Homo sapiens: one gene and its partners. The protein of the gene in region 2 interacts with the protein of the main gene of each other region in a biochemical or structural test. Each region holds a gene or a part of one and is shown on either strand. Other genes may lie near its edges.

Evidence for each region.
Region 1: the proteins of GIT1 (region 2) and HAP1 form a complex in vitro, tested with the Homo sapiens proteins (one study listed by BioGRID).
Region 3: the proteins of GIT1 (region 2) and PPFIA2 form a complex in vitro, tested with the Homo sapiens proteins (one study listed by BioGRID).

Annotation. Positions count from the first base shown.
Region 1 is NC_000017.11:41,731,027-41,738,735, reverse strand, and holds the start of HAP1 (huntingtin-associated protein 1), read left to right. Parts: upstream 1-4,092; 5' UTR 4,093-4,101; coding exon 4,102-4,570; intron 4,571-5,937; coding exon 5,938-6,017; coding exon of another isoform or gene 6,018-6,041; intron 6,042-6,341; coding exon 6,342-6,506; intron 6,507-6,617; coding exon 6,618-6,799; intron 6,800-6,992; coding exon 6,993-7,098; intron 7,099-7,176; coding exon 7,177-7,243; intron 7,244-7,709. UniProt on the Homo sapiens protein: Originally identified as neuronal protein that specifically associates with HTT/huntingtin and the binding is enhanced by an expanded polyglutamine repeat within HTT possibly affecting HAP1 interaction properties.
Region 2 is NC_000017.11:29,579,078-29,586,862, reverse strand, and holds part of GIT1 (ARF GTPase-activating protein GIT1), read left to right. Parts: intron 1-3,246; coding exon 3,247-3,380; intron 3,381-3,825; coding exon 3,826-3,938; intron 3,939-4,059; coding exon 4,060-4,165; intron 4,166-4,522; exon of another isoform or gene 4,523-4,718; coding exon 4,719-4,936; exon of another isoform or gene 4,937-5,026; coding exon 5,027-5,121; exon of another isoform or gene 5,122-5,482; coding exon 5,483-5,525; exon of another isoform or gene 5,526-6,758; coding exon of another isoform or gene 6,759-7,072; intron 7,073-7,785. Other genes in the region: TP53I13 (tumor protein p53-inducible protein 13), read right to left, coding at 6,759-7,072. UniProt on the Homo sapiens protein: GTPase-activating protein for ADP ribosylation factor family members, including ARF1.
Region 3 is NC_000012.12:81,258,734-81,266,518, forward strand, and holds part of PPFIA2 (liprin-alpha-2), read right to left. Parts: intron 4,658-7,785; coding exon 4,498-4,657; intron 3,308-4,497; coding exon 3,249-3,307; 3' UTR 3,216-3,248; intron 2,478-3,215; exon of another isoform or gene 928-2,477; coding exon of another isoform or gene 899-927; 3' UTR 1-898. UniProt on the Homo sapiens protein: Alters PTPRF cellular localization and induces PTPRF clustering. May regulate the disassembly of focal adhesions.

The DNA of each region.
Region 1 (7,709 bases), about 12 Mb from region 2:
TTCTATTACCTACCCTGTTCCAGGTGTTTTTTTTCCCAGGGTCAGGCCAGGGGAGGGGGCAGGAGGAGGGGCCTGAGCCACCTGTGTGCTGCCCAGGGCTGGGCACTGGAGTGAATGTGCCCCAGGTTCAGGGGGTGTGCACAATTAGGTGGTGGGTGGTCTGGCTTTGCAGCCTGGCAAGTCTTCTGCACCCTCCCATCCTCTTTCGGATCCAGGAGGGTCCATGGATGCACACTGGGAGGGAGGACAGGAGGCCAAGGGTCTTTGCTGTGTCTGATTTCTCCCCCTAGATGAGAAGCAGGAGAGGGAGGGGGTGGTTGACAGAGGAAAACCACTTGAGAGGCCTGGATCAGAGACTACCCCCAGTCTCCTGGACAGCCCTAGGCTGTCGAAAGGCAGATATCTGTCAGCCAGGCCAAAATGCTTACTTCCAGAATGACGGGCCCTGAGCCCTGGTTTCTCCATTTGTAAAATGGAGTCTCTGTCCCTACTCCACTTTCTGTGGGGCGACTGAGCCTGTAGGTGAGGAAGCCACGTGGGGAGGTATACGGGCTGACACTGCCCTCTGGTGGCCGTAGCCAGAGTTGCTGGCTGCCAGTGCGCTGACCTAGAGGGTGTGGTCAGCTGGGGGAGCTTTCAGGGTCTCCTAACTTCATCTCTGTCTTCTCCATCCCACTGCCTCTGCCTTCTTCCCCGTCAAACTCTCCAGGGGTTTCCCAGGGCTTCTTCCTCATGGGGCCAGAAACAATTTAATTCAGCAGGAGTGTAATAGGCTTCTTCTGTATGCCCTGTTCTGTGCTTGGTGGTTGGGGCTGCAGAGATGTCCAAGGCACAGAGAGACAGTCCAGGAAGCTGGGCTGTGGGAGGACCACTCGGCAGAGCCTATGGAGCTGTAGCCTCACGGAAGCCTGGGCTGTGCCGATGCCCGAACAGCCACCTCCTTATGTTCTTCAACCTCACTGTCGTAGCAAACCCTGGGGTTGTGTGTCTCCTTCAAGCTTTCTGCTGACAAAGAAACCATAGGAAACATGCAGACTTTGGGCTGGGCACAGTGGCTCACGCCTGTAATCCCAGCACTTTGGGAGACCAAGGGGGAGGCGGATCACGTGAGGTCGGGAGTTCGAGACCAGCCTAACCAACATGGAGAAACCCCGTCTCTACTAAAAAGACAAAAGTAGCCGGATGTGGTGACGCATGTTATTGGGGAGGCTGAGGCAGAGGCAGGAGAATTGCTTGAACACGGGAGGTGGAGGATGTGGTGAGCCGAGATCGTGCCATTGCACTCCAGCCTGGGGCAACAAGAGCGAAACTCCGTCTCAAAAAAAGAAAAAAAAAAGAAAGAAAGAAAGAAAGAAAATAAAACATGCAGACTTTGAACAAGGAGGAGAACGGTTATGTTATGAAAGTTCCTCCATTTCCAGAAGTATTCTGGGAGATAAGCTCTCTTTTCTGCACCTGTTTTCTCCTCCCTGAGGGAACATTTCCATCAGCATGTAAACATATTGTCCTCTCTCCCATCTTCAAAACACACTCCCCAGCACTCATGTCCTCCTTCAGCTCCTGTGCCCTTTTCCAGCTCTCCTTTGTTGCAGATTTCTTCAATACAGTTTTCTATACTGTCTCCCTTCCTTCCTTCCTTCCTTCCTTCCTTCCTTCCTTCCTTCCTTCCTCCCTCCCTCCCTCCCTCCCGCCTTCCTTCCTTCCTTCCGACAGGGTCTTGCTCTGTCACCCAGGCTGGAGTGCAGCCTCGACCTGTGCTCAGGTGATCCTCCCACCTCAGCCCCTGAAGTAGTACAGGTATGCACCACCATGCCCAGCTATGTTTTTTTTTTTGAGACGGAGTTTCGCTCTTGTTGCCCAGGTTGGAGTGCAATGGCGCAATCTCGGCTCACTGCAACCTCCGCCTCCCGGGTTCAAGCGATTCTCCTGAGTACCTGGGATTACAGGCACCCGTCACCATGCTCAACTAATTTTTTGTATTTTTAGTAGAGACGGGGTTTCACTATGTTGGCCAGGCTGGTATCAAAATCCTGACCTCAGGCGATCCACCCGCCTAGGCTTCCCAAAGTGCTGGGATTACAGGTGTGAGTCACTGCGCCCGGCCAATTCTTGTATTTTTTTGTAGCGAAAGGGTTTTGCCATGTTGCCCAGGTTGGCCTCAAATTCCTGGGCTCAAGCAATTCACCCTCCTAAGCCTCCCAAAGTGCTGGGATTATAGGTGTGAGCCACAGCGCCTAGCCTTCTTTCTGTTTTCATTTTGTTACCTCTCGTTATTTCCTCACTCCTCTTTGGTCTCTCTCACCCCCTCTACCAAGACCGCTCTTTTTTTTTTTTTTTTTTTTTTTGAGACAAGTCTTGCTCTGTTGCCCAGGCTGGAGTGCAGTGGTGCAATCTCGGCTCACTGAAACTTCTGCCTCCTGGGTTCAAGCAATTCCCCTGCCTCAGCCTTCCAAGTAGCTGGGCTTACAGGCTTGTTCCACCACACCGAGCTAATTTTTGTATTTTAGTAGAGATGGGGTTTCACTATGTTGGCTGGGTTGGTCTCAAACTCCTGACCTCAGGTGATCCACCTGCCTTGGCTTCCCAGAGTGCTAGGATTACAGGTGTGAGCCACTGTGCCTGGCCCCGCAAGACCGCTCTTGCCGAGGCCATGACCCCAGCTCACCAAGGTTGCCCATGACCCCAGTTTGCCAAGCTGAGTCTCTGTCCTCAGTCTTTGCCTGGCCCAACAGCACCACCCAACACAGGTGGCCACTCTCTACATGAAACATTTTCTTTACTTTCTAGGACCCAACTTTCCTGGTTTTCCTCTACTTCACTGCCCCACTCATCCCAGTCTTCCTTTGATGCCTCCTCTTCTTCTTTCTGCCCTCTGAATCCTAGGGGGTTAGTCCTGGGCGCTCTTACCTGTCTTCTCTCAGTCTCTTGGGGATCTCACCAGTCTCATAGCTTTAAATGGTCATCAAAGAACAATGACTCCTACATTTAAATCTCCAGCCCGGTCTCTCCCCTACATTCAGATTTATACATCTAATTGTCTACCCAACATTTCCAGTAGGATACTTAAAAAAAAAGTATTCTATTTATTTATTTATTTTGAGGGGTAGGCTCGCTCTGTAGCCCCAGCTGGAGTGCATTGGCACAATTTCGGTTCACTGCAACCTCTACCTTCCAGGTTCAAGCAATTCTCCTGCCTCAGCCTCTTGAGTAGCTGGGACTACAGGCACACGCCACCATGCTTGGCTAATTTTTGTATTTTTAGTAGAGACAGGGTTTCACCAGGTGGCCAGGCTTGTCTGGAACTCCTGACCTCAGGTGATTCGCCTGCCCCGGCCTCCCAAAGTGCTGGGATTACAGGCGTGAGCCACTGCGCCCGGCTACAGGGAGACTTTTAAGAGGCGTCTCCCAAGGAGAACAGGGGTTCGCCAGCATGGCAAGAGGAGGGCAAAGCGAACTAGGGTTGGAGGTGAAGAACAGTTAATCCAATCAAATGGAAGACGTCGAGTGGCGCGAGCACTGGGGTGTGAGCGCGAGGGTCAGGGTTGCAGCGCCAGGCAGGGTTGCAGCGCCAGGCAGGGTTGCAGCGCCAGGCAGGGTTGCAGCGCCAGGCAGGGTTGCAGCACGTTGGAAGCGCACTGGAGTTTGGAATGTCTCTCCCAGTCAACCGGGAAAGACGCAGCGCTGCCCTAATGCACTGGCCACCCCAGACCGTATGCACAACGTTGGGTTGGCAGCTTCTACACCAGGGAAGGCACCCGAAACCCCGGCGCGGCAGCTGGGGAGGGGCTGCCCCCAGCCAGGGACCCGCGAGTGCTGGGGCAGCCGCGGCTTTGGGCAGAACCATTCTCCGGAGATGGAGAGGGCAGAAAAAATCTTTCGCTCCCATCCCAACTCGGAGCCATCCGGAACTTGCACTCGCCCTTCTTGCCCTGCTTTTCTTACTGTGCTCTGTTCCGTCACCACTAGCTCCCCTCCCGCGCGGCTCTGAGTCCCGCTTGCCACTAGTTGCTTCTCGGCAGCCCCCACCCCTACGCGTGGTCCGGCCCGGCGGCTGGCGCAGGTTATAAAGGTCCCGCCGCAGCAGCGGACGGCAGACTCGAGATGCGCCCGAAGAGGTTGGGCCGGTGCTGCGCGGGGAGCCGGCTCGGACCCGGGGACCCAGCAGCACTCACCTGTGCACCTTCGCCCTCAGCCAGTCCCGCTCCGGAGCCCTCTGCGCAGCCGCAGGCACGGGGCACTGGACAGAGAGTAGGATCCCGAGCCACCTCTGGATCCCAGTTCCTCTCGGAAGCCCGCACCGGAGCTCGCCCGGCCTCGGAGGCTGGAGCCAAGGCAGGAGCCCGGCGCCCGTCCGCATTCTCGGCCATCCAAGGGGATGTCCGGTCTATGCCCGACAATTCGGACGCGCCGTGGACCCGCTTCGTATTCCAAGGGCCGTTTGGTTCCCGGGCCACTGGCCGGGGGACTGGAAAGGCAGCGGGCATCTGGAAGACGCCAGCCGCCTACGTTGGCCGGCGACCCGGGGTGTCCGGCCCTGAGCGCGCCGCCTTTATTCGGGAGCTGGAGGAAGGTAAATCGGGCCCCCGGGGTCCTGGACCGGGTGGGGACTGGGGCAACTCCAGGGAGGAAGTGGCCCCATCGGGTCCAGGCACCCCGCCCCCTCTAGCACTCAGTGTCACCCGTCCACCACCCCCGCGATGTCACTGCGGTGTCTGTCTGGTCGCCCCTTCTCCATCTCCTCCTCTGCTCTTGTCCCCTGGTTTGTGCCCGTGAGTCAGGTTCTGGGGCCTGCACGCTCGCCCACCCACCTCCACGCGCCTCTTGCTGCGGCAGATCTGCACCCCTTCAGCGCCCCTCTCCTGGGTCTACCGCAGTGCCAGGAGAGGGGCGGGGGGCTGCGGGAGGGCGCTGTCCCGCGCGCTCTGAGTCTGCGCTGGCCGACCGGGCTTGCGTGCGATGGAGGGGTGGGTGGGCGGGCGGAGGGGGAAGTTTTGCCCACTTTTTGGTTGCGGGTATGGGGGCAAAGTCGCGCTCTTTTCCTGCCCCTTGTCTCTCCTATCCTCCTGCGGGTCGGGGGAGATCTCTGGATTGGGCCTAGAGGCTCGAGTGTCTCCTAATCTGGTGAAGTCTTCCTCCTGTCCTCTGCACACGCAACAGGTGCAGGGTGAGTGGCTGCGTCTGTTTGTATGACCCAGGAGACTCCATTGCACTGCCTCCTGGGTAGGGGGTGATGAGCCAGTCTGAGGCTGTACTTCCCCTGGCTGTCTCCATTCTAGGCGCCAGGGACCCAGGTGTCCGGAGAGCCCAGTTTCTGAGCCTGGAGGACTGTGACCCCCTTACCTCAGGCTCCTCCAGGGGTAAAAAAAAAAAAAAAAAAAAAAAAGCCGGGCGCGGTGGCTGACGCCTGTAATCCCAGCCAGCACTTTGGCAGGCCGAGGCGGGCGGATCACTAGGTCAGGAGTTCGAGACCAGCCTGGCCAACATGGTGAAACCCCGTCTCTACTAAAAATACAAAAATAAGCTGGGCGTGGTGGCGGGCGTGTATAACCCCAGCTACTCGGGAGGTTGAGGCAGGAGAATTGCTTGAATCTGGGAGGCAGACGTTGCAGTGAGCTGAGATCTCGCCATCGCACTCCAGCCTGGAGGACAAGAGCAAGGCTTTGTCTAAAAAAAAAAAAAAACCAAAAAAAAAAAAAACCAAAAAAAACCCAAAAACCTAAAAACCCTGTCCACTTGGCCCTGGGAGCAGGGAAGGGAGTGTTGAGTGCCGAGGGGTAAGGGGAGGATGTGGGGGGCAGGAGGGGAGCCCAGTCTTCTCTCCCGATGACCCTTGTTGGAGAACTGACGATAGGACGGGAAACAGCTGTTTGCTGGTAGCATCTGCTCCTTTTTCCTGACCTGGCTGGGCCTTTTCTCCCCACCTGCCGCCTCCTGCAGCACTGTGTCCTAACCTACCTCCGCCAGTCAAAAAGATCACCCAGGAAGACGTCAAAGTGATGTTATATTTGCTGGAGGAGGTGTGTACTGCCTTCCTGATCCAGGCAAGCCCTTATTCTAGTTTTGTCCTGTAGGGGTGGGGGTCTTGTTTATTTCCTGATTGGCAGTCTCTCTGGGGCCCCAGGTTAGGGTCCTTCTTATGGAAGACAGGTCGATGTGGGATGTTCAGGCTGGAAGAGCTCTCAGAGCCAATCTGGTCTGATCTTCTTTTTCCATGAGGGGAAACTGAGCCAGGTTCCACAGTGGGTTAATGGCAGACTCTGGTCTGGTACCCTAGAGAACTAGGGGATGGGGAAGGTTCTCTTAGGGGCCTAGCCTCTCTCTGACCCCTGTGTCCCCCCCAGCTTCTCCCACCTGTCTGGGAGAGCGTTACCTATGGGATGGTCCTGCAGAGAGAGAGGGACCTGAACACTGCAGCTCGCATCGGCCAGTCCCTGGTGAAACAGAACAGTGTTTTGATGGAGGAGAACAGCAAGCTGGAAGCCCTGCTGGGCTCAGCCAAGGAGGAGGTAACCGGGTGGGGAGGAGAGGATAGCGGGCCAATCTACACCTGCCTCATGCCAGGACCCTCTCCTGTCCCTGCCCACTCCCAACCCATGGCTCCTCTCTCTTCCTGCCAGATTTTATACCTCAGACACCAGGTGAACTTGCGGGATGAGCTCCTCCAGCTCTACTCAGATTCTGATGAGGAGGATGAGGATGAAGAAGAGGAGGAGGAAGAAAAGGAGGCAGAAGAGGAACAGGAAGAAGAAGAAGCAGAGGAAGACCTGCAGTGTGCTCATCCCTGTGATGCCCCTAAGCTGTGAGTTCCTGCCTTTGCACCTGCAAGTCCTTTCTCTGAGCCTCAATTTCCTCATTTGTTAAGAGGGACACAGGTGATGTGCTTGCTGGCAGGGTTGCTGGAACTAATTGAGAACACTGCCCTTAGCCCTGGTGGGCTGGGAACTGGGAAGCCCCACTCCCTGCACCCTGACTCCCATTCCTCCCTCCCCTAGGATTTCGCAGGAGGCATTGCTGCACCAGCACCACTGCCCACAGCTGGAAGCCTTGCAGGAGAAGCTGAGGCTGCTGGAGGAGGAGAATCATCAGCTGAGAGAAGAGGTGAGAATGGGGGAGGAGGGCGTCCCTGCTAGCAGGGGGTGTTGACTTCCCTGTCCCTTCCTCTTTGTCTCCCTCCAGGCCTCTCAACTCGACACTCTTGAGGATGAGGAACAGATGCTCATTCTGGAGTGTGTGGAGCAGTTTTGTACGTAATGTTGTCACTCGGGGTGGGGGGTTGTCCCAAGGAGCAGAGAAAAGAACTCAAGATGTGGAGTATGGAGATCCAAGTTCAAGTCCCAGATCTGGCACTCCTAGCTGTGTGAACTTGGATACATTCCTTGACCTCTCTGAACCTTTGTCTTTAGAATGGGGATTAATTTTCTCAGCCCCACTGATCTCTCCAGGGTTTATGAAGATTAAGAGTGTCAACAGCTGAGGAAGTACTTTGTGCAAACTATAAAGAGCTATACAGAAATTGTGGGTCTCAGGCCAGGCACGGTGGCTCATGCCTGTAATCCCAACAGTTTGGGAGGCTGAGGCCGGCGGATCACCTGAGGTCAGGAGTTTGAGACCAGCCTAACCAACTTAGAGAAACCCTATCTCTACTAAAAATACAAAAATTAGCCAGATGCAGTGGCACAAGCCTGTAGTCCCAGCTCCTTGGGAGGCTG
Region 2 (7,785 bases):
TGCCTGCCTGGGGAGTCCAAGAGAGGAAGGGGGCAGGGAGCCCTGGAGAATGTGCATCTTCCCCTTTCCTTAGGCTTGGCCCACCTCGCCACACGATCTCAGTCAAGGGCCTCTCCTCACCCCATGGGCTTCTATCTCAGCCTTTTCCACTTTGGCAACCCTGGGGGTGAGAGTGAAGGCCTCAAGATGCCTGTCCTGTAGGTATCTCTGGTGAGCAAGGCCGGGGACATGTTACGGGACAAGCTACAGGCTGATTTGTCTCTTCATAGTGTAGATTGCAGAGTGGGACAAATGTTGGGCTCCTCTTCCTCCCTTATGGAGGTAGAATTTGTGTGTGTCAATGCCTGCACCTGAGTGTTCATCCTGATGGGCTTTTACATGTGTGTATACCCATGTAACTACTGCTCTGATCATGTTATAGAATAAGGGTATCCAATCTTTTTGCTTCCCTGGGCCACATTGGAAGAAGAATTTTCTTGGGCCACACCTAAAATACGCTAACACTAATGATAGCTGGTGAGCTAAATAAAACAAGCAAAAATAAAAATAAAAAATAAAGTCACAAAAAAGTCTCATAATGTTTTAAGAAAGTTTATGAATTTGTGTTGGGCCACATTCAAAGCTGCCTGGGCCGCATATGGACTGCAGGTTAGACAAGCATGTTATAGAACATTTCCATCACCTTAGGGGGCTTCCAAGTACCCCCTCCCAGTCCGTGCACCCCAGAGGTAACCACCATTCTGACTCTACCCCAAGGACTACTCTCGCCTGCCTTCATGATGTGGGCTTTTCCCTTAGTCTAGTGGAGATCTGGCCCTTAGCTCAGGGGAGGGAGGCCTGAGGCTAGCCTGTATGTGCAAACCTACTGGCCCTGGAGGCCACTGATGGCTTCAGGTGGTGGCAGGAATTCACCGTAGTAGAGGCCTCCATGGGGTTGGCACTGGTTAACGTGATCCCAGGATCACGCCTGCTACCTCTCCACACATACAGACCCATACCCTGCCGGTGGAGCCAGAAGCGCAGGGGGAGGGCTGACGAGTTCCCTTACAGTTCCTGTCCTTTCCGTCCCAGGTTTGGTCCAAGGAGCTTCTTGACGCAAGGATCCCTTCACCTTAAACTACAATCTGGGTAGTCCCAAGGGCACTTGCACAGAGGGAGGAGACAGAATGGTTAGGGTGGGCGTCCCATCTGTGTCATCCAGAAATGAGCTGACACCAATAGCGGCTGCCCAGACCAGGACAGTGTCCTTTGCCTACCATTCTTCTCAGGTCACCTGGAGGAGAAGGAGAACCCCTCCCCCAGGCTGGGGGAAAGTGCCAGGCAAACCCTTGGACCACACTCCTGCATCCTGGTCTTGGTTACTGCCATAGCCAGGGTCACTCACCACATCTGGTCTGCCCATGGCTTAGGGCTCTGGAGCCATTGGCCGTGGATATATAGTCAGCCTTCCATGCCTGGCTTCTCCGGTAGGACCACAGACCTCAGATCAGCCCATTTATGATCCTGCCCTGGGCGGCTCCCCACTTACAGGAAACCCCACCAAGAGGAATTTGGGCTGCATCATTTCCGGCTTCCTGCCTGGGCTGCTGGAGGTGGCTGGCTGGCAGCCCCCTGACCCAGTGGTGTTTGGAGTGGGGAGAGGGAGGTCTCCACACCTGGGGTGCCTCACTATTTGGGTAAAGCCAGCCCAGAAGTGCATGCTAGGGCTCCCCCTCTTGGCGAAGAAGGCTGGTCCCTTCCTCCTGAGCCCTGGAGTCAGCCCCCCAGGAAGGTGTTGGCGGTCACCTTGGGCATCCCTCTGTTGCCCTGATTGGGAGGGGGTCCCTTAAAAAGCCTAAACCCGCTGCACTCCAGCCTGGGCGACAGAGCGGGACTCCGTCTCAAAAAAAAAAAAAAAAAAAAAGCCTAAACCCAAAGACAGGCCTCTCTCCTTTACTTCCTGTTTTCATGCCTCAGTGGGGGTCACTTGCTGTGGGCAGAGCTCAGGCTGGGCCCCTGACTCAGAGTCTCCTCAATTTTCCTGGGAACTTTGGTGGAAGTCCTTAGAGGGGAAAGGCCTGAGAATTGCCTTCTAGTTGGGAGAGATTCTTATCCCCCTAAGCCTGTCCCTCCCCTGATGGGGATACTTCTGAACACCCTGAGCGCTACAGGGCAAGGCAGAGAGCCAGTCCCCCACCCCCACCCCAGGACAGGGTTTCCTGAGACAGGGTGGGGGCCGCTGGGCAGAGCAAAGTGTCCTGGGAGAGAGGCGCCCTGCCCCCACTCTCAGGCGGCACACAATGGCTGCTTTCTCCCCCGTGACCTTTCCGCAGCCTGAGTCGTATGCAGCTGTCTCCCAAGGGGCCTAGGATGGGTGGCATCTCCTCCACCCTTGAGAAGAACCCCGGAACTCCCACCCAGTCCTGGCCCTGCTTCTTCTCCCAAGTTCACTTTTCCCAAAAGAGTGGAGAGCAGGCTATAGAGGCAGAGGGACAGCAGCAAGTGTGGACATGGCATGGTCTCAGGCATGAAAGTGCCACATCCTGGCAATTCTACTCATTAGCCTCGCATCCTTGAATAAGCCCTTTAACCTCTCTGAGCCACTGTTTCTTCATCACAGAGGTAGCATGTCCTACCTTGCCTGACAGTTGCAAGCAGCATCACACATAATGTACCCAGCTGGTACCTAGTGGGTGCCCAGTCAAGCCCAGCTCCTTTGCTCTGTCCATCTTCCTTAAGAGGGCTCCAGCTTACACCCTCAGTGATGATGGCAGGAGGCTCCAGCATGAAAGGACCTCACCTGCTGGCAGGAGGCCAGAGGCAGGACCTGTGGACGGGTGTGATCTGTCAGGCATGTTTCAACAGCATCTGGCATGCAGCAGCATCTGGGTTGCATCCCCTTGGGGATCCCTTCCTCCCTTCGGGACGGGCTGGGGCAGAGACCTCGTTTCCTGGGAAAAGGCTGAGAGACTGGTAGCAGTGGCTGCAGGGCAGGAAACTGTGCCTGCTGAATGGGCCCTGGGGACTGCATATCCCAGAGGGGTAAGGATGTAGGAAAGGGCATGGCTCTGTCAGCCCCCAGCTGTGAGCTCTTGGGGAGATCCCTCACTGGTAACCTGGCCGTAGTGATGGTCCCAGCTCCTAGGCTGTTGGAGACTGAGTGAGTGAATGTGTGGAGAGTACTAGGCTTGGCACGGGCCAGAGCAGGTGCTCAGGAGGTCTGGCCCATCATCTGGCTCCGGCTGACCCTTGCCCTCACCCTGGCAGACCCTGGCTGGGCATCCATCAGCAGGGGTGTGCTGGTGTGTGACGAGTGCTGCAGCGTGCACCGGAGCCTGGGACGCCACATCTCCATTGTCAAGCACCTTCGCCACAGCGCCTGGCCTCCCACGCTGCTGCAGGTACAGGGCTCAGTCGGGTGGTTCTTCCTTCCCCTCAGGCAGAGTGTGCTGAGCATGAGGGCGTTTCCCCCTCACCCACATACACCCCCATCTGGAATCTGCAGCTTCCAAGGGGCAGCACCCCCCTAGGGCAGAGGCTAATCCTGACCCTTTCCTCCCATCTACTCACTTCATGCAGAAGAGTAGCTCACACCCCTGCTCTGCCACTTATCAACGTGGTCGTGTAGCATTGAGCAAGTTGCTTCACCTCTCTGAGCCTTGGCACACTCATGGGATCTGTGTCTTTGGGCAGCTGGACTAGATGGAGGTGTGGTGGTGCGGGCACACAGTAGGCCCCCTTGGTACCGTTTCCAGCTACGCCAGCCACAGCAGGCGCTCAGGAAGTGTTTCCCCCATTGCTTAGCACGCAGTGGGCACTCTCTCACTTGGCATCTCTTCCCTGCAGATGGTGCACACGCTTGCCAGCAACGGGGCCAACTCCATCTGGGAGCACTCCCTGCTGGACCCCGCACAAGTGCAGAGCGGCCGGCGTAAAGCCAACCCCCAAGACAAAGTCCAGTGAGTGGGGCTGGAGGGGTGGTGGGCAGAGACTGCGCAGTCCGGGACAGGGCCCTGGGAGGTGGCAAGGTGACCACCCTCTCCCACCATGCTCCCCATTCCTCCTGTGTGCCCCATGCAGCCCCATCAAGTCAGAGTTCATCAGGGCCAAGTACCAGATGCTGGCATTTGTGCACAAGCTTCCCTGCCGGGACGATGATGGAGTCACCGCCAAAGACCTCAGCAAGGTTTGAGGGGCCCTACAACAGATGGGTGGCCCCCTCCTCTTCTTCCCATCCACGACTCTCTGAAGGCCTCTCCTTTGTCCCCACTGAGCCCTGGGCCCCAAAGGCAGCCAGGTCAGGGTAACAGTAGACAGGGTGGAGAGAGCAGATTGTTGGGTCAGGCCGTGTGTGGCTGAGGCTCCCCAGCAACCAAGTAGACACACAAGGCTAGAAGCCCACAGCTGCCACTCAGAAGCTGGGAAAACCTGGGGGTAGTTGCTTAGCCACTCATAGCCTCAGTTTACTCATCTGTAAAATGGGAAAGAAATAACAGCATCTACTTCATAAATAGTATCTAAGCAGGGCACACAGCACACGTGGTAGATGGTGACTGACGGCAGCGTTTATTAATTGGCATTAACCCCTAGCGGGAAGCCTCTGTCCTCCCGACATAGTCTGGTTTGGGCAGGCCTCCTTGGAGCTGCTAGGTGTCCCAGGGGCAGCCAGGGTGCAGCTTGTGGGTGGGGAGGTGCGCCTCACGCACATGCGTATTCACTGCACACTCTGCTCCTCTTAGCAACTACACTCGAGCGTGCGGACAGGCAACCTGGAGACATGTCTGCGCCTGCTCTCCCTGGGTGCCCAGGCCAACTTCTTCCACCCAGAGAAGGGCACCACACCTCTGCACGTGGCTGCCAAGGCAGGACAGACACTGCAGGCCGAGCTGCTTGTAGTGTATGGGGCTGACCCTGGCTCCCCTGATGTTAATGGCCGCACACCCATTGACTATGCCAGGTGAGGGTCGGCTGAAGGGTGCAGTGTGGGTGGGTGGGGGTGTGGGTGAGGGCTGCTGCTGCAGGTCTGAGCCATACCCCCTCCTCACAGGCAGGCGGGGCACCATGAGCTGGCGGAAAGGCTGGTTGAGTGCCAATATGAGCTCACTGACCGGCTGGCCTTCTACCTCTGTGGACGCAAGCCGGGTGAGCAGAGCTTGGGGGGCGCCTGGCTGTGACAGGCCTGGCTGGGGCTGGGCAGGTGGGACCTGGACGCACCCGGCAGCAGGTGCCATGGTGACAGAGCGGCTGGGGAGCAATGTTGCTAGGCAACTGGCTCCTGTGAAATTACTGCAGGCTCTGGGCCATAGCATCGCTGGGGCTAGGGAGTGGGGGTGGGCATCCTGCATCCTCCCACGAGCTCCCAGCATTCTTGGGGGTGGCCTGCCCTCCCCACTTTCCCCTGACACTTCTGGGTGCCAGCCCTGCTCATGGCAGTGAGGTGGGCTCCCAGCTGCTGAGGCCACCCAGCACTAGTGAGTGACTTGGCATTTTTATTTTTGTTCAGATCACAAGAATGGGCATTACATCATCCCACAGATGGCTGACAGGTGAGTGCCCACCTGATGCCCCTTTCCAGAGGCTGTTGGATGCCATGTGGGTGGCTGACCCCCAGAGCTCCCAGCCCAGGTTTCAGAGGCCTAGGACCCTGCTCCCTCCCCCCAGAGACTAGAGGCACAGCTTAGTCCTCAGTCCCTAATGCTGGGCCCCAAGGCAGGTAAAAAATGTCAGCTCCATATGTGGCCCGCATAGCCTGAGCCCCGTGACTGTCAAGTACATGGAGGGCTTGGGTGTGAGAAGCTACCTGTGGGCCGGGCGCGGTGGCTCACGCCTGTAATCCCAGCACTTTGGGAGGCCGAGGCGGGCGGATCACCTGAGGTCGGGAGTTCAAGACTAGCCTGGCCAACATGGAGAAACCCCGTCTCTACCAAAAATACAAAATTAGCCAGGCGTGGTGGCGCATGCCTGTATCTCAGCTACTCGGGAGGCTGAGACAGGAGAATCGCTTGAACACAGGAGGTAGAGGTTGCGGTGAGCCGAGAGCACGCCATTGCACTCCAGCCTGAGCAACAAGAGCAAAACTCCAAACTCCGTCTCAAAAAAAAAAAAAAGAAAAAGAAACAGAAGCTACCTCCGGCTGGGAGGGTGGGCCACTGGGTTCTGTCCCAGTGGCACCGACCCCACTGTCTTTAGAGAAGCCTCTGCTCTTCGCTGAAAAGATGGGTGGGCTTCAGGGATGTGACTAACTTTGTGACTGCTGGCTAGGCCTCTAGCGTGCTCAGAATTAGGCACGTGCGCTGAGGCTGGTTGAATGAGGTGTTTCTGCTTCCGTCTGAGAGGCAGTGTGGGACACCCCCTGCCACTCACCCAGCACATAAGATGGATGCTGGTGCCACCTGGTGGCCACCTCTGATGGCCATGTCCTCATGCCAGGCTGTGCCTGCTGGCCTGGATCTGGAGAGAGGAGGTGCTCTCCTCCCCAAGGGCCTGTGTGGGCAGATGGGCATAACCAGGCCTGGGCGACTCAGATCCTAAACCCAGACCTCTTCCAGACCCCAAGGCTCCTACTTCTATGGTCTGATTCTACCTGGGTTGTGTGTGCATGCGTGCATGTGTATGGTAAATACACCCAAATATGGGCTCCATTCAACAGCACATTAACTGAGCACCTTCCCGGAGCCAGCTACTGCTCTTGGCACTGGGAGCACAGAGGCAGCTGAGACACAATCCCTGCCCTTAAGGAGCTCACAATCTAGCTGGGGAGGCAGCCTAGCCAGGTGATTCTAGTCCTCATGGGGGAGTGCAGCAAGAGAGGCAGAGGCATGGAGGGTAGAAATGCTGCATGGGAATGGAGGCAGCCCCCGGGCTGGAGCACAGCATGGGAGGCAGGGAACCCTACAAGCAAGACTGGGATAGAGACGAGCTGGAGAATGAGCAGCCCCGAGAGCATCAGCAGGAGCAGTGACCATCCCGAGAGCGGAGAGTTCCAGGCACAGAAGTGTGAAGTCATCTCTGCTGCTTACTGGCTGTGTGACTTGCAGGCTGCTTGACCTCTCTGAGCCTTGGTTATCTCTCCTGGAAATGGAGATGACAGCATCTATTTTTCAGGGAGGAGAGGATTAGATAAGAATGTATGCAAAATGTTTAGCCTTTTTTTTTTTTTAAGAGTTGGGGTCTCGCTCTGTTGCCCAGGCTGGAGTGCGGTGGCTTGATCATAGCTTACCACAGCCTCAAACGATCCTCCTACCATAGCCTCTTGAGTAGCTGGGACTACAGGCACATGCCACCGTGCTCAGCTAATTTTTAAATTGCTTTTGTATCTCTGTGTTGCCCAGGCTGGTCTCCACCTCCTGGCCTCAAGCGAACCTCCCACCTTGGCCTCCCAAAGTGCTAGGATTACAGGTGTGAGCCACTGTGCCCGTCCCTAGGGTATTCTGATGAAGTATGTTTGGAGTGTGCCATATGCACCTGTTATCACTGCAGTGCCTTAAGGCAAGGGGTAGTGCAGCCAGGTGTATCCAAAAAATCACCCTGGCTGCTGGGTGGAACAGGATTGTAGGGACAAAACTAGAAGGAGGGAGATTAAGAAACTTACAAAGCCCAGGCAACAGGTGATTGAGGAACCTGGGGAGCTTCACTAGGACTGGAGGGTGAGGGAGGCTTCAGGTGACTGCCAGGTGGCTGACACTGGTGGTGGACAAACAGGTCACTGAGAGGAAGAGCAAGCCAGAGGAGGAGGGGTGGGGGACGCGGTGAGATGAATTCAGCTTTGTCCCTTCTGGGCCGGGTGTGCGTGGAGATGGGTCTGGG
Region 3 (7,785 bases), on a different chromosome or scaffold from region 2:
TGGGTTTCGTTTTCTCTAGTGGAAATGAGCCTCAGACTCTGCGGTGGTTGACATTCACTGTCCAGTACTGGCTGGCATTTCAAGATATTTGAATGAACATGTGGTTCTTAGTAAAGAAGTTTTTTTATCTTTTTTTTTTTCTTGGTCCACAGGTAACAAGAGAAGATTATGGTTTTTTAATATAAATTTTTAAATAATTGCTTTTGACCCTTGTAAACAGCTTGGCTTTGTTTTGTATTGAAAAGGAGATCAAGCCATCACAGTGCTATTTCTAAAGATATAGGACATCCCTGATTGCCTTTAAAGCTCTATTTTTGGCTCCGGTTCCAGGTTAAATCATTCTTTTTTACATGATCAGAGGCAGGTTGTTCAGCTTTAAGTATTGACAGACTTGAAGGAGAAACACGTTGAAGCATGAAACATGCTTCAAGGAAACATATTGATTTGACTATTAACAATCCAAAAACTGTAAAAATGGTGGAATGGTAAAATACAAACAGTACTTGGAATTGTCAAATGTTTGCACTCGAGACTCCATGAACCATATATTTTATTTTTTAAAAAATCATATTTATATCCATTTACATAAGACTTACACATTTAAAAAGAAATGCACGGTAATACATAAATGCCTAGTATATTACAATAAAACATGAAAAACAACTGGCTTCATTTCATAAAAGCATCTGTTGTACAGAGTTTATGATGTAGATGATGTTTATTATTCAAATGACTTAAGCATTTTATTACAATTTGTAGTAAACTAATCAAATGTAATATCTGACTCCCCCCAAAAATCACATTTTTCAGCTTTTAATAAGTCATGACGTCATTATTTCCTTAGAATTCAGTTTTCACAAAGGTTTTCACTGCTCGTCTTCTTAGATGGTAGTGCACTTTAGGTAGAGTAGACTGAAAAGACGCCATCTAAAATATACAATGGATAGCATTAGTTCACTGAAAAGTCCCAGACTGGGAAATCTCATTCTACTCCTCTGTGGTGTACCTCCACGCAGCCTGCTTACTCCTGTCCTAGAAGATCATGAGAAGGAAATCATCTAGGATGTAGCCAACAGCCGTATGTAATTAACATTTGCTTTTCTCCAATTTGGTGCAGGGGAGCTTAACAAATAATAGAATTTGCTCAACTTTGTGGAAAGTATGGCAGTAATGTAAACAAAGGTAGTTATGCAAAATGTTAGCATGCCTTCTGAAAAATTTACAACTTGCTAATTAATAAATTGGGTTGAATTGACCTATTTCATAATGTAGATTTATATTCTAGTTCATATATTTTAGAGTTCTTAAAAAATACCTTTATTTGTTACAAAAACATAACGATAATAAGTCACCTATTGTAAACGTTTGTGTCAGTAGTATGGCATTGCTGATTGTTTTCAGCCATAATGTACTTAGAAAAAGCTCACAATTGCTATTACTGACACAAAAGAAACAGCAAGTAGTATGCTCTGGATTATTTTAATATCAAAAGTGTTGTTGTTTCACCCAAACAAAAAATGGTTGTCCTAGATTGAATTATTGTAAATGAATACTGTTATCCCAATTAATGGTAAAAACTAGGAAATATGAACTAGAATGTCATGCACAAAAAACAGATTGCAAATAGAGTAACTCTACCCATCACTTAAGAGCTAAGAAGCAAGCACTATTGAACATATTAAATAGTCATTTGTAAATTAGTGAAGTGTTCATTTCCTGAAGAAATTATAATGCTATGTGTAGAATCTAATATAAACAGTATTTTGGGAGACCTCTTATTTAGCCAAATTATTATATACTTTAAATCATGTCTAATTAGGTGCCAAATTATATACCATAATTAAAATTTTAATGTAAGGGTTGTACATTCTGAAATTAAATCTCTTATCGGGATGCTTTTCATTTTATCAGCTTCAAATAGTGATCCAAATAAGGCAGCATATCTGCTCCCATCCTAAGCCCAAAAGACCAACAATAAATTGTGTGGCACTTTTAGTTCAAGGCAATGAAAACAGCACAAGGTGAGTTGTTCCTCTGTCTATAACTGTTTTCTCTTAACCCTGTGCACACATTTTGTTCTAAATATCGCTCTTAAAAAGTATTTTTCTAAAATATTGATTCATCGAAAGTGGTTAAATATTTTGGTAAAGCATAGTTTTAGGTTGAAAAAAAATTATGAACATTTGACATTTATAAATCTAAGAAACCACAGTTTTACTATTAAGACTGTTTTTCAATAAAACCTCATTTTTATATGGATTTTAAAGTAGCTTTCATTAATTGGTATTTCCTTAAAATCAAATGCTTGGTATTTATGGTTACATAGGAAGGTTTTGTGCTGGTCCTATTCTCCATTCTTAAAGTAATTTTATTTTGTTCCTATATGTCTTAAATACTTAAAATTTATATTTGTTTTTAGCAAGTGTAAATCAGATTGATAAGAAACAATGTAATAAAGGTTTGAATTTTTCACAGTTTCTACTATTTATTTATTGATTTATTTTAAGACGGAGTCATGCTCTGTCACCCAAGCTTGAGTGCAGTGGCACCATCGCTCACTGCAACTTCTGCCTCCCAGGTTCAAGTGACTCTCTTGCCTCAGCCTCCCAAGTAGATGGGATTATGGGAGTGCAACACCATGCCTGGCTACTTTTTGTGTTTTTAGTAGAGATGAGGTTTCACCATGTTGGCCAGGCTGGTCTCTAACTCCTGACCTGAAGTGATCCACCTGCCTCGGCAAGTTTCTATTTTTTAATATGAAACCATCTCTAAATCATTTTCCTGTCTGTTGCTATTTGACTCGGTGAACTTGCTTAAATCCCTATCCGCTACCTTGGCTTCCTTATATAAAATATACACTTAAAAAGATAGGATTTTTTAAAGTGCTGAATTATTATCAATAAAATGCTAAGTTACTCAACAGGAAATGGTACTAAAAAGTAGAAAACAGTGTAGTGGCAACCCATTGATGTGTAATAATACAGTGATAGGCCTCCAACAGGCAGACCTTAAACCACAGGAGACAGATGGTGATAGGAAATGCTAGACTAAGTGTTACAATATGAAGATTTCTTTTTCCCCTGAAGCAATTCAAAAGGGTTATCTCATTTCTGTACTGCTAGGGCATACCAAAGAGTATAGTGTATATTTATTAGTCTATGTAGGTTCCATTTTTTTGTCTTTTTTTTTTTGTCAGCCAAAGGGAAACTACTCACAGCAGGTCAGTGCTGCCTCCTTTGAGTGGCTGGTCAACATGAGTATGTGCGAACAGTGGAGTTGTCTAACCTCTGCAGTCTTGATGAAGCAACTGCAAATGGAGAAAAGGGCTTTAGAGGGACTTGGATGATTGAGTACAAGATTTCAGATGAGAAAGATTTATTTTCCCTGCATACAGGGATTCCGAACATATTAGTAGACCTTCTTTCTCTCAGATATAAGCCACTCACATTCCTCTTCTCTAGATCAAGTTCCTAATGAAAATTTATCCCAATGTAAATGACCTGAGCTTTTGAGTTGTTATGTATTCTTCCTTAGATAAAATCGGTAACAAGAGCAGCTCCCGAGGGTGCTTCTGATTTTGATATGGAGATTGCTCTTAGAGAACTCATTATAGTGGATTTTTTTTCCTTTCCAAGTATTGAAGAACTTCTACACTAATTGTAATGATGTTAAATTCCTCATGAATTTCGCTGACATGTTCCACCGTATTAACAAGTTGTAAGAAATGTAGATCAAGATCACAGTTTATGTTGGAACTAAATTTGAGTTATAATAACTGTGACCTTGACAAGAAATAATGATGCTAGGTGATTATCTTAACAAATAGCATGGGACTATTTTTCTTTAATGCCTCCCAAACAGAAATAATTTTGTGACTACTATTTCAAAGTTGTCTCTCCTCTGGAATGACTTTTCTTTTGTAAATTAGATAGCTTAAGTCTAATGTCCACAGAAGGAAATAGTAATTGGGAAATTACTGTGTTTTGTGTTTCTTTAATTCTCTTCTCATGTTCATGGCTTGTTTATTTAAGGGCTTCTGCTTTGGCTAGAGGGAAAAATATTTGATGAGTGAATTTCTAAGATGACATATAAAACTCGCAGTATTTAAACATGTAGGGAGACAGTGGAGTTAATTTCCATTTACTATGGATCTTTAGTCCAAGTCCAACCTCTAACTTAAACAAATTGTTAATTTTGGGAATAGAAGACTAAAGAAACACAAATCCTGCCGATGTTTATTGTTCCTCCTAGAGGTGGACATTAACCAAATTGTTCTTTTTGGGATGTTATAAATTATTTTGAAAATGTGAATAAAGTGCCATGAGTTCATGCAATAGCAGTGTAAAAAGGAGTCTGGTTTGTGATGAGAGCAAAGTAAATTTCAAGCAGAGCAAACCAACTCAAGAAAATAATTCCAAAAAGCAAGGTCAGAGAATTATACTAGCTTTGGCTAAACAAGCTTTTTGCTTGATAAGCAGCAATGCAAAACTACTGTACCATCTGTTGTCATTTTTCTTGACTGCCCAGAGGTTGTGGTTAACCTAAATCCAGCTGGTAATGTTTCTGAGGACCCAGGCATCATGCTGATTCCATGTACTTCACGAGGAGGAAACTGCCTTCTCCAGGTTGATCCACGTCTGAAGTTCTTGTCATCACTCTGCCAGTACAGTTATAAGGTGATGTTATGAAAACAAGTAAACTAGTCCATGTGCTTAAAGCTCTGTGCTTAGAAACATGTAACATAGATTATTTACATTTAGTCTGTCAAGTATACGTATGGAATCACGCTTTATCAAGATAGTTAGTTCTATGATTCCAAAACAAGACTATAGGAGATTTGATATATAAATTTTTAAATAAAACTTTTCATACAATTTCAAATTTAAGGTCTGACATCTATACAGTAAATATCCTTGAAAGCCTAAAATAAGCAACCAATGTTTTCCAAAATAAATATTGTATATACATTGTTCCACTTTATGCCGACGGGTTTTATGGAAAGAGATGATATACTTAATTGAATCAGTTGTTGAGTAGACTACATTTAACTCACACACTTGAATGAAATGACTTCTATGTACACAAATACAATGTAGGTATTTATTTTGGGGAAATCTATATTTGAGATGGCATGGCTAATATGAGACACTGTAGCCTATTATAATATCTGTACAAGAAACTCTAAATATGTGATTTGTGAAGTTTTAGGTGACACAGAATTAACTTGCAATTTGTTGAAAAATCTGTGTAGCCTGGACACCATCCTTTCAATAAGTACATGTGGTCTTTGGGTACCACCGAAAGCATAATATTACCCTGGTTACATTTTAATAATGTGTATTTTAATATACACAGAGGCAGAGAGTCACATCCCATTTAATTGGCCCAGTAGACTTTTTCTCTAGTTCATTACTATCAGGAAGCAACATCATACCCCACATAGGCTAGTGTCTCTACTTGGACAGATCCTAGGGTGAATCCACATTTTAGAATGTAGCATAGCAATTACATTTTAATTCTGGTTGCTGATTTTGTTATGCCTTAATAAAATAATCTCTTCCTTCTCTTTGTGTACATAAAGTACTTTTACAGACATAATTATTTTCCTCCAAATTGGCAAGTAGCAATATATAATTCAGCAGTCAATGAATATTCTGTGTCTAATTCCAAGGAAAATATGAATCATTCCACATAGGTCTTGTCTTCTCATCTCACTGTTTCTTATCTAGGGAAGGACTATCTATGCCATAGATAGGTATAGCCAAGTATATGTTGTGTATCCTAATATCTCATTTGATTTCATTCTGGCATTTGGAATAATAAGTCTATATTCACTCAACATAGTAATTTGTGCTATGTTATAGTGAATAATTCTATAAGGTAGGCTTTGTAGACTGCTATATTAATTAAGGGACATTTAAAGTCAATCAGGGAAAAATAAAATCATTTTTATATAATAACATATATCCACTGTTTCAATCCTTATCATCATTAAAATCTACATTTTGTTTCAGTGTGGTAGCCATTTTGCACATTAAGAGATGTCCGCTACTCTTCCCAACTGCTGTGTTTTTCATTGCCCTAGATCTCCAAATGTGTGTAAATGTAGAAAAGAAACAGAATTTCACAGTTGCAGCCTCTACGACTTCTTGATTCTTGGAGAAGTTTTTGCATTAAGCATAAATAGTCTTCAGTTTTATAAAACACTATGTTACACTGTAGAGCTACACAACTCCTTACAGTGTCGTAGCTAGGGGCTTAAAAATAAGCCAGTTTTGGCTGGGCGTGGTGGCTCACGCCTGTAATCCCAGCATTTTGGGAGGCTGAGGTGGGCGGATCACCTGAGGTCAGGAGTTCCAGACCAGCCTGACCAACATGGAGAAACCCTGTCTCTACTAAAAAATACAAAATTAGATGGGTGTGGTGGCACATGCCTGTAATCCCAGCTACTTGGGAGGCTCAGGTGGGAGAATCGCTGGAACCCAGGAGACGGAGGTTGTGGTGAGCCGAGATCACACCATTGCACTCCAGCCTGGGCAACAAGAGCGAAACTCTGTCAAAAAAAAAAAAAAAAAAAAAAAAAATTGCCAGTTTTTAGAGTTAAGCGTTTGAATTATGATTCCTGACTTCTGTTCTTTCAACATATTGTTACTGCAGAAAGTTGATAGAACTATAAACAACAACATCATGGGGAAAACTTTTCATGAGATAGGGTTAATTCTTTTAATTGGGGTCAAAGTCTGTATAAGCTTGTTGACACCTCTCAGATTATTTCAGTGGAATCTGAATGTGATCAGCAAAACCGCAGAAATAAGTCCACTACTGTTCTAAGTAAGTTGGCTATTTTTGCTCACACTAAAAAATAAAATAAAATTGAACAAAAGAGACTAGAGGGTTTAAATGACAAAATTCTATTTTGTGCTTTTAAAAATAAGAAAAAGCAGCAGCATAGTTTAAAGACAACGAGTCGCATCTCGTTTAATTGGCTCAATAGACTTTTCTTCTAGTTCATTACTATTAAGAAGCTACCCCACACCTGGACAGCTCCTAAGAGAATGTAGCAATATGACAACTCTTCAATAATTTTTTATTAGAAATTTTTGCAACTTATAAGTAAGAATAATTGTATTTTAAGATGTATGAGTTTATAAGACTACCTTTTTGAATCAATAATTTCTAGTAAGGATTTAAAAGACTGTCATGCAACTTATAAGACGAGGCTTTTAAAAATATTAATCATTATGCTGATTGAATAAGAGCATGAATTTATCAGAAGTTAGCTGAGTTCAAGACTGTAGAACTTATCTCTCTATAATCCCCACCATAAAGGACAGAGTGGATTTTATAATACCAAGATTATCTGTCCTGCCTATTTGAATATAGAATGATTGGTCCATATTTGAATTTGCTGAGGTCTTCACAAAATAATTTTAATCAGCTTGTCTTTGTAGTAAGGAACACCTGTACTTTGCAACACAGAATTATGCATCTCTTTATTTTCTATTTCATGCTCAGGTTTCCTTCCCACTTCTTCCAGAAAGACCCTGTAGAAAAACTCAGAAAGACTATTAAAATGTCTACAGTCCACAGCATTTGCTGATATCCCTTGTATTCATTCATCTCGGGAGGCTACTTACATGTTTATTATTTTCCAAATAACTTAATATGCACATATTATATAGCGATTCTTATATTCAATATAGCTTTCAAATTCTATGACTGTTAAAATGTTATTAATCTGTTTTGAAGGAAAACTCAGTATCAATATATAAAATAATAAAAAGC